Linked DNA regions of Homo sapiens: region 1 is linked to region 2. Evidence: fine-mapped expression QTL. A gene starts in region 2. The other region holds a variant in brackets. All regions are shown on one strand. Distances are between the middles of the regions.

What was found. PIP is the estimated chance that this variant, and not a neighbour inherited with it, causes the effect.
Region 1: its variant is the best candidate, but not a certain one, in a credible set for the expression of SC5D in atrial appendage (GTEx, PIP 0.68).

Annotation. Positions count from the first base shown.
Region 1 is chr11:121,235,664-121,241,048 of GRCh38, reverse strand. It overlaps LOC105369533 (a long non-coding RNA gene), which reads right to left and starts at 4,246. Exons shown (of 3, transcript XR_948108.3): 1 at 3,580-4,246. It also overlaps the pseudogene TRPC6P5. RefSeq lists enhancers at 528-1,076, 3,282-3,821, 3,822-4,361, 4,284-4,473, 4,362-4,901. The variant G/T (reference allele first, on the strand shown) is at 2,851.
Region 2 is chr11:121,290,042-121,295,426 of GRCh38, reverse strand. SC5D (sterol-C5-desaturase) reads right to left here and starts at 2,656. Exons shown (of 5, transcript NM_006918.5): 1 at 2,611-2,656. RefSeq lists enhancers at 1-151, 2,865-2,914 and a silencer at 2,645-2,694.

The DNA.
Region 1 (5,385 bases), 54 kb after region 2:
GCCTACAGAGAGGAGCTACCCACTGCGGGTCTCTTCTGAGCTGTTCTAACAGAAATAAAGCTCCTGTTGATGTTCTTCACCCCTCACTTGCCTGCATATCTCGTTCTTCCTGGATGCAGAACAAGAACTGTAAAGGCGCCACTGGCCACAAGTTTCTGGGAAGAAATTCAAAACCCAAAGATCCTGTAATATTATTCACCCCTCATTACTGAAATACATTTTTCCTTGGGGCATAACAACATTTACTTTTGGCTCAGCATTTTAATTGTTTTCCACTGTTTTCTGGCTTCTGTTTTTGCGGGTAAGAGCCTGTTGGCAGTCAATTACTATTCCTCTGTAGATAATCTGTCTTTGCTCTGTCTGCTCTTAAGATAATCTCATTATCTTTATTATGCAGTTTCATTACTATTGTGTATCTTTTTACTCATGATTTCTTTTCCTGTTTCTGAGGATTTGTGCCTTCCATCAATTTTGCAAAATTCTCAACCATCATGTATTTATTTCTTCTACCTTGTTCTCATCCTGTCCTGCATGTCTATCTATCACGCTCTTTCTGTTGGGGTGATCAGACCCAACACCAGGTCATGGGGGTGACAAAGTCCGGTGGAGTCATAGGATTGAGAAAAGCTAGTTTGAGAGAGAGAAGTGGGAGTAGGGAGCCATCATGATCATGGGGGCTGCGAAGGCCCTGAGCTCTGGGAGCCCACGCTATTTATTTGTAATCCAACAAAGAAACAGGTGGTGAGAATGTGGAGGTCAAAACGGCAGGTGCATGATCTACAGCTGTGACGGTTTAGCATTTATATGGAACATGTTCTGCTACTTGAGATAATGGGAATACAATGGATCTAGGAGCCTGGGAGGGCTAGAAGCAAGGAGCCAGCAAGTCTAGACACATTCCAGAGGACATTATGTCAGTCACGCAAGCCCCATCTCAGCATTCTTCCCAACCCTCAGCATTTTTCCCAACATGCTCCCCTTCTCTTTTTTGTAAAAGAAGGTATCATTATTACTACCATTATTACTAGCCATCATTATTACTAGAGTCACTCTGGTTTGAATGCTTCCCACATATCTCCCCTTTCCCTTTTACAAGAGGATCCTTAATCCTAGGGGTTGCAAAATGATGAAGGTCCATCTTCTGTAACTTCTTTATACTGAATAGGGGCAATGATACTCCTGCCTAACCATTAGGGTCTCTTGTATTCAAGGTAGAGAGGAGCTGAGTCAGAAAGCATTGGTCCATTAAGCATCATGACTCTGGTCGGCCCTTGTTGCATCTTCTCATTCAGATTCAACTGGCTCGTGGCTCATACTGGGGGAACTCAGTGCATGGTTGGGATCCATGGGTCCCTCCAGTCTCCCATTCCATGGTCGTACACATCTTAAGGCATCCACATGGTTCATTCATCTCCCGAAAAAGCACAAGTATACCCTCACCCCCCACGTTAGTAAATCTACTGAAACAGAAGCAAAAACTTCTGTGGCTGTAGCCGGGACCATGCCGTTGCTGAAGCATTTGTTAACTCAGTTTCTGCCTCTGATTAATTACTGCGAGGTAAAACTTTCAACTGATAATGGGAAACAGGTCTTTTCTGATTAACAGAAGGCACAGAGAAAGCAAATCGAGGCTTTTCAAACCTTCAATTCGCATTATACAGGTGGGTCCACTAGATGTTGTGGCTCATGATAGATCTTCAGATGTTTGGTGGGCACCCACACAGGCTCCTGATTGTCACCTGGATAGACACAAGCAACTCCTCTTCCCCATATAATTATCTTTCCTTTTTGCCAGCTTTTTGTATGTGACCATATCTTTTTCTAAGGCCTGCAGCATTAAGATGAGTTAAAGAATGGAATGCTTGTGCATCAGCAAAGACTGCAGACACCAGTGCATCTGCCCTTTGATTATTTAAAGGACCAAAAGGTCCTGTTGGAGAGAAAAGAAAGAGCATTTTTATCCTTGCCTCCCTCCCCTCTATTCCCTTTATATTTGCCCTTTGAGCCATAGCTAATTTCATAATTCAGAATGTTCTTGTCTGTCCCTGCAAATCTCTGCTAGTCTTTGCTAGTCTCTACTTTTGTACCTCTTTAGGGCACTGATCAGTAACCTCTACTAGGGCACTGATCTTATATTGCTAGTCTTCATCTATCTCTCTACTTATCTCTATCTCTCTACTTATCTCTCTCTCTCTCTACTTATCTCTATCTGTCTCTATTTGTCTCTGTCTCTATTTGTCTCTACTTTCTTGTCTCCACTTACTTATCTCTACTTACTGACTTATCTCTGCATCTTTCTTGGAAACCTTTTTTATGACCCTGGGTAGAGCTGAAAAATCCACCCTTTATGCTTCAGCAAGAGACAAAACAGGGACCCCAGACCTGGCACCAGATTGAAGGGAACAGGAAGTGCTCTCCCCTCCCCAAAGCAGGGAAACCAGAGTTTGGCCCTTGCAGATTTCCACTCCACATCAGCATCATCCTCAATTCCCTGGAATGAATTGTTGATCATGGCAGTTAACATACTTAGCAAAACAATGACCATTGTAACATTATAGGCTCCATAAATAACATAACCAATGTTTTCAATGAATTTGTGGTTATAGTTGATGACCACTGATTTCACTTCAGAAAGTCCAAATATAGCCTAGAGCAGTGTCTTAAAACTCTGTTGTGAAGGCTTCACTTTGTTTTGCACCAATGTAGTAGTAGAGGTTGAACATTCCCATCATAAAGGCCACAAACACCACAATGAACACATTCAGCCCATATCATGCCTGTGTGCTTATTAAATCTGTTTTTCTCCAGCAGAGGCAGGTTAAACATGAAACTGAAGCTTCAAGATGACTT[G/T]ACTTGCCCTACGCAAAGCAGCGCATGATTTATTTTTTCCGGAGACTACTGCCAACCAGGCCTGTGTGTCAGTCTGTAAGCATCCAACAGCAGGTCTACTGTACAAATAGGTCTTTTGTCAGACACTTGATTAACCCAAAATACAGCCTTTCCTGTTGGATTAGTACTACCAAAGCCTCCTGTTCTTCTCACTGTGCTGCTTCCCAGCTTTATGTCAACAACTGAGCAATTCTTTTTCCTGGGGAAGCAGACCACAGAGTTGAGGAACTAATAACTAATTGAATTTCTCTGGTATAATCAGAACCAATCATTTCCGTATGCACAGTGCCACCTCTAGATCTTTCAAGTAATAGACCGACGGTTCCTGAGGGCAAGGGTCCCCCAACTCCCGTGGGGACCCTCTCCAGTGGCTCCCAGGAAGCAGGGAAATGAGAACTGTGCTGCAAAGGTCCACGGCAGCACTGCCCGCCGCGGTGGGAGACAATTGTTGCCGTTTGTAAGGGCACTGGCTGTGCCGGATATGCCTCAGTTTATTGAGGTGCTCTCTAAATAAACAAGCCTCAGATTCCACTGGGTCTTAGTACTACCAATTGCTCCAGGTTTTAATGTTGCAACTACAGGAGCGGTAAGTTTTGTAGCTAATTCATTTTCTCGCCCACTAAGGGGAGAGAGAGGAGGTGGCCATTCACTTAATTCAGCAGGTGGAGCTGAGGGGCTAGTAAAACATACCTTTTTCGGTTTCCCTTTCTTTGATTTCCTCCGGTTTCTGTTCCTCACATTCAGAATCTGAAGTTAGTTTTTTACACTCGCCCTCCTCTTCCTCATCTGAATCTGCCTCATGATCTGTTTGAAATGGCTCAAGAGCTGCTTTTATTAGTGCCCACATTGACCAAACCGAGACTGGAATATTTGCTCCACCTTTATATGTTTTTTTAAAAATCTCTGCCAATTCTCTCCCATTCATCCAACTCCATAGTCCCTTGTTCCGGGAACCATGGGCAAAACTGCTTTACTGCACTGAAGAGTGATAAATTCTGAGCACTAACTTTCACTCCCCCCTCTTCATAATAAACGCCTTAAGAAATTTAAATAAGCAGAATGTCTGCTTTCACTTTGTCCCATTGCTACCCTGGTTCTTCCCAGCACTCAGCTTTCCTGCTGAGCTTCTTTTAGACATCCTCAGGTGTCCTCTGATGATGCGTCCTCTGCTTTCACACGCTCTAGCGTTCCTTCACCGGGGTCTTTGTCACCCCACATTGAGCAGCCAGGAACGTTGGGGTGATCAGACCCAACACCAGGTCATGGGGGTGACAAAGCCCGGCGGAGTCAAAGGATTGAGAAAAAGCCAGTTTGAGACAGAGAAGTGGGACCAGCGGGCCATCACGATCGTGAAGGCCCTGAGCCCTGGGAGCCCCCGCTATTTATTTGTAATCCAACAAAGAAACAGGTGGTGAGAATGTGGAGGTCAAAAGGGCAGGCACATGATCTACAGCTGTGACAGTTTAGCATTTATATGGAACATGTTCTGCTACTTGAGATAACGGAAATACAATGGATCTAGGAGCCTAGGAGGGCTAGAAGCAAGGAGCCAGCAAGTCTAGACACATTCCAGAGGACATTATGTCAGTCACGCAAGCCCCACCTCAGCTTTCTTCCCAACGCTCAGCTTTTTTCCTTAACACTTTCTCTTTTATTAGAGACAAGATCTCACTCACTCTGTTCCCCAGGCTGGAGGGTAGTGATATGATCATGGCTCATTGCAGTCTCAAACTCCTGGGCTCAAGTGATTCTCCCACCTTAGCCTCCTGGGTAGCTGGGACTACTGGTGAGAGCCACCTACATGTCTCTTAACCATGAATTATGTTCACAAAAATCCAAACTTCAGAGTCATTTTGTATAGACCTGTGGTTACAAATTCTCAAAGGCGACTTTCTTTTTCTACTAATAACCCAGCCCAAACCAGAAAAATTTACTTCTGGTTTCCTTTGCTCTGATGTGAGTTTTTTTAGTTGGTCCATTGTCATCATGGGTATTGCTCTCCAAGGATCCTCCCTTGCTCTGGCAAGTTCATCTTCTGTCTCCCAGTAGCCATTAAAATAACCACTTTTAGGTTACCAACATTGCTAAATGCATGGGAGGCAGTGAAGGTTTTATTGTCAGCTTTCTATTCTGATTTCCAGCTCCCTTTTAGTTTTGAATGATGAGAATTTCTTTGACCTTCTATGAGGTCATTTATACTTTTATCAATATGATTATCACATTTTATCTTGTATTTCCAGATGTTTGCACTGGAAGGAATGTTTTGGCTATCTAGTCCACCATGTTCCTGGATATGTATGTCCCCAAGGTGGTTTTCATTCCATCCCACAGTTGTTGGCATTTCCTAACAATATCTCCTCAAGGGCTCCATGAGAAACAGTTACATCTGCCGTGTATTCCTCACTAACAACCCCCTCCCCAATTTTCTTTTTAATTACTGTAGTCCTGCTTAACTCTCACTACACAAAAGAATCTTTATTCACCTCTCATCATCCT
Region 2 (5,385 bases):
ATGTGTGCATTCAGTGGAAGGCTAATCAAGGACTCAAAATAATGCAACCTTTGTCTCTTATCTGCTTCTAACCTGGAAGCCCCCACTGTGAGTTGTCCCGCCTTACCAGACCCAACCAATGTACTTCTTACACATATTGATTGATGTCTCATGTCTCCCTAAAATGTATAAAAGCAAACTGTGTCCCCGACCACCTTGGGCACATATTGTCAGGGCTTCCTGAGGCTGTGTCACGGGTGAATCCTTAACCTTGGCAAAATAAACTTCCTAAATTGACTGAGACCTGTCTCAGATATCTGGGGTTCAAAACGGGTTCAATGTAGATCTTAAAACCTAATTATCTGTGGCTCATCTTCTATCTTAGATATAAGCAATAGGCCACATGTAAATATAAATGTGAAGTTCAAAAGCGAGCCTGGTTAGTATACAGGTAGTAGTTGAAGTTATAGGGGTGAAGACTGCCAAGGGAGGTGGTGTAGCAGGGACAGGGTACTACGTAATATCAGATAACATAAACATTTAATAATTGAAAAGGATATTGCTATATCACTAAAGGTTGGTAACAGCTGATGAGCCAATCTACATGTTCCCCACAGTGCCATGTGGCCCTACTTCAATACAATACCTAGAATAGTATCGTGCAACCAAAAAGAACACAAACATGTTTGATTGCTGTGAGGTTTAGAGACTAAGTAGACTTTTGACATTTGACCCAAGAAAGGTACTCAATAAAATAGCATCTATATGATTATCACTGTTAAGGCCGTCAAAAATGCGTCAAAATTACTTCAATAGAAGATAAAATAGGTGCCACTTGATTTTTGTTTGAAAAATAACTGACAGTAGTTGATAGTAATATTTAATATATACTAGGTAATATAAATATTTTAAATATATTAACTAATTTTCCCTTTCAAGAAGCCTCAAAGGTAGGTACTAGTATTATTTTATAGATGAAGAAGCTGGGCACAGAAATTTTAAGTAACTTGCATAGGGTCATAAGAGTAAATAAATGCTGGAGCTAGGATTCAAATACACACAATCTAGTTGCAAAGTACGTGAACTTCTGCCAAGTTCTATAGCCTCTTCACCACTACTTCAAGTCGTCAACTCCTGAATTTTTAAAAATGTTCAGTGCCTCTACAAGCTCATATAATTTTAAGGGGTTATAAGCCCTGAAGTTAGGGGTCCCAAGGACCCTAAATTAAGTACCACTGCTTCAAACAGAAACTTAAATACTTTGTCCTTGCAGAATTAAAGAAACTTCTTCTTAAAACTCAGTTATAATAACAATATTAGGCTTAGAACAACTCAGTCTACCATTATCTTTTTGCCCTACTTTAAAAGTATAGAAAATGATAGCTAATATTTATTGAGAACCAGGTATTATTTTTGTATAACCTCATCTAATCCCTATACCTCTATGAGATAGGTACTTCTATGCTCCCCACTTTATAGATAGGGAAACTGAGGTCAGAGTATTTAAATAACTTGTTCAGTAGCAAGCAACAATAACAGAAAAAACCAGCTGGGATGTACATTCCACAACCTTTCTCTTTGCTACCACGTTATGTTATCTCTCAAGATGTTTTATATGCAGATGAGGGATTCTGAGTACCACCCCATGCTAATTAATTACATTACATAACGAATGGAAAAGCACTCTGTAAATGATCAAGGATCAGTTATTATTTACTAGGTATCAATCATTAGAAACTTTAAAAAATGATAGTGATATAAAGACAAATAACTTCCAGAGGGTTTCCTCTAAAAGTACCGAGCTGCCACAAACTTTCCAGTTTGGAAACTCTATGTACTGAGGTCTTGTTTTCTTCACTTACACCACCTCCAAATCTACTCTGCTGTAACACAGGGATGTCAGTATACATTATTTTTCCTTTTATGATGCAAAAGGAACAGATTATTTCCCTTTTCCTTTCAGTCTCCTCAGCCCCAGATTGCTGTCCCTTCATTCTAATTACGCCGCAGCAACAGAGGCTTGCAATGGTCAGGAGTTCTGATACCGACCAGTTCTTCAGCCTGATTCTTCTGGCCTTTAAAAGAAAAAAACCCTCCCAGAACGAAGGGAAAAGTAAAGCATTCGTGTTCAGCAGCCAGACCAGAATTCCCTTGAGTAAGAGATCTGCAACACCCAACATCAAACACTGCATTTTCTTTAAGCCCGTCCACGGTCGGCTCCTTCAAGTCCAGGCCTCCCTATCGGCCCCGCGATCCCTCCCAGCGCGAGCGGAAGGCCCCTCCGCCCGGACTCCCAGGTGGCGCAGCCCTCCAGGCCCCGAGGTCCCCCGGCCCAGCCCTCGCCGCCAGTCTTCGGGATGCCAGGCTACCTGCCAGCCTCTCCTCTCACTCGGCGCAGGACTCGGATCCGTATGCTACCGCGATCCTACCATCCGCCCAACGCCTAGCACCCAGAGGGCACTCGCTAACCAACCGCGGCGCGGAGAAAAGCCGTGCTGCGAGGACACCTTCCGCCTCGCCCACCCGAGTCCCAGGCGCTGAAGTCTCTCCATCTTCTTTTATTCCATCGCCCCCCGGCCCAGCCCGCTCAGGTGTATTCCGCTTCCTTCCCCGCCCACCCACCGTCCCCACCTGGAGGTGGTCCGCCGCCGCTCCGCACGCCACTGCTCTGCAAACTGTCCTAGCAGCTGGGCAGCCAGCAAGCGGGCCGGGAGGCTGGAGCGGCCAGCCAATCAGCGACCGGCGCCATAAGCTGATATGACGGCAGATCGCGCGAAGGGCCTGCGCGCAGCTCTCCGCGGTCACGTGGGCGCCGCGCGCTCGGCCACGCCCCCTTTGTCCTCTGACTAAGGGGAGGGCGGGCGCCCCATCCGAGTACCTTTGCGGTGGAGGATGCGGTTTCGGGTTTTGCGTTTGTTTCTTTGCTTTCTTTTTAAACTAGCTCTTGTGTCATTCATGGTGGTACCAGGCAGGTTTACGGTGTTTATACAAACATTCCTAGAACGGGTGCCCTGCGTTGAGGGAAATAGACGACACTTCCTTTGACGCGAATGTCTGGGTCGTTTTCTCCCTCAAGGGAGGAGGTGCAGATGTTCCCAAACAGGTGCTCAAGGTTTTAAGACGTAGTCCCCCCGATTTTCTAGCGCTGAATGGCTGGAGGCTCCGCGAGCCGGTGTATGTAGGGGTCTAAATGGTGACAAGATGAGGGTAAACATGGACAGAAACCTTTTCACGATACAAGTTGTTGAAAACCAAGGTTAACGCAGATCTAATTGGCTTTGATTTGCTACACATGAATCGAGCAGCTCCGATTTCCTGAAACAGAGCTGAGCAGAGGAGGGTGGCTTCACAGGCAGAAGAGGACGGAGGAAAGCAGAAATAAGGAACCAAAAGATCTGTCGTTTCAGAGTGACTTTCCTTAAACAGAGATTAAAACAGAGGGGACTGACTTGTGATACCAGCTCAGCAACTTCAAAGTGGCAAACTGGGCCACTTTACCTATTACATAAATAATATGGGGAATACATGACAGAAATGAGGGATTTTTAAGGGAAAAAAATAACATGATTCGATCTGCCTTCAAAAGACTTTTCCGGTAGTTAAACTTCAAATGTACATAGGATACTGGACAAAGTTCAAATGAATTTAAAATAGTGTAGGTGGTTTTTTTAAAAAAGACTCATTATATAAATAAAAATAAATTTTAAAAAGTTTTGAGTGTCTACTTCGTTTAACACATCGTACTGAACACCGGGAATGGAAAGAGATGTTACAATAATGACAAAGACATGGTTCCCAACCTTAAAAAGCTTATGTGCTGTGGGAGAAATGGGCATGTATAAATAACTATGTTGCTTATTACAAGGACAGGAAATAAACAGTAATTGGTGGTATAGGCTGAGCACAGAGACAAAATGGCTATTCTGATGAGGGAAATTAGGGAAGGAACATTGTTTTGCCCAATGAAATGATTTGAATGGACACTTTAAAATGTTATTGAGCATAGATGATAAAACATTTATTAAACGAATAAAAGCTCAAAAGTGAAATGTTATAAGCAAACATCAAATATCCTGAATCTCTAGAATTTTATTGTTGAATATGCCTTAGCTATTACAAGTGGTCTTTATTCTTGGTGACTTAGGGATTCCCAAGAAATTTGCAATCACTCCTGACAACTCAAAGTAGTAATAAGTTAACCTCAAGAGAACAATCTTGTTTAAAAATAAATTTAAGTGTATTTTTTAATTATTATTTAAGTTCTGGGATACATGTGCAGAACGTGCAGGTTTGTTACATAGGTATACATGTGCCATGGTGGCTTGCTGCACCTTCCAACCCGTCATCTAGGTTTTAAGCCCTGCATGCATTAGTTATTTGTCCTAATGTTCTCCCTCCCCTTGCCCTCCACCCCCTGACAGGCCCCGGTGTGTGATGTTTCCCTCCCTGTGTCCATGTGTTCTCATTGTTCAACTCCCACAGTTGAACAACTCCCACATACTCAATGAGAATATGTGGTGTTTGGTTTTTTGTTCTGTGTTATTTTGCTGAGAATGATGGCTTCCGGCTTCATCCATGTCCCTGCAAAAGACATGAACTCATTCTTTTTTTTATGGCTGCATAGTATTCCGTGGTGTATAAGTGTATTAATAGCACATCCTGGGGTGCAGCATTCCTACATGTCTTTTCTATCCAGGCACACTGATGGATCAGGGTAATTTATTTATTCATTGTTTGCAAGGGTCTATGGTACCAACCAGCCAGTACCAAGGAATTCAGAGATAAGCCACAATACCTGCCTATGTGTCTGGATGGAACATGAACATGGAAACAAACCATTTAATCATTAAATTACTCAATTTATTTACTCAATAAATCATTATGTAATGGTGATAAGTGTCAGGCACTGTCATATGCACAGGAGATATACTGATAATCAAAACAAAGTCTGCTCTAATGAAGCTTACACACTAGTAAGGAGACAGAAAACTGATAATAAATAAATAGATATATAATACAATGTCGGACAGTGCTATGAAGAAAAAGAAAATGGGGTAAGAGAATCAAAATTAACGGAAGCTGTTAACTTCAGACAGCATGGTCAGTCAGTTTCTCTGAGAGGGCTACATTTGACCTGAACAGAGTTAGAAGTCCTCATTCACTTGGAAGATTCTAAACTGAGATTGAGTTTGAATTTTTTTCAATGAAATGTTGCCTTTCAATGCATCAATAATTTATCAGCCCACGTTCATTATATAACATTATACTTTAATGAGAACACTAAGCACTAAACTGTTTAAAGACCTTTGTCTTTACAAAGGTACTACAAAGGAAACTACAAAGACTGTAGTTTCTGAAGTTAGGAAATGAAGACCCTTTCTTTCTGCATTCGTCCGTTTGCATTGC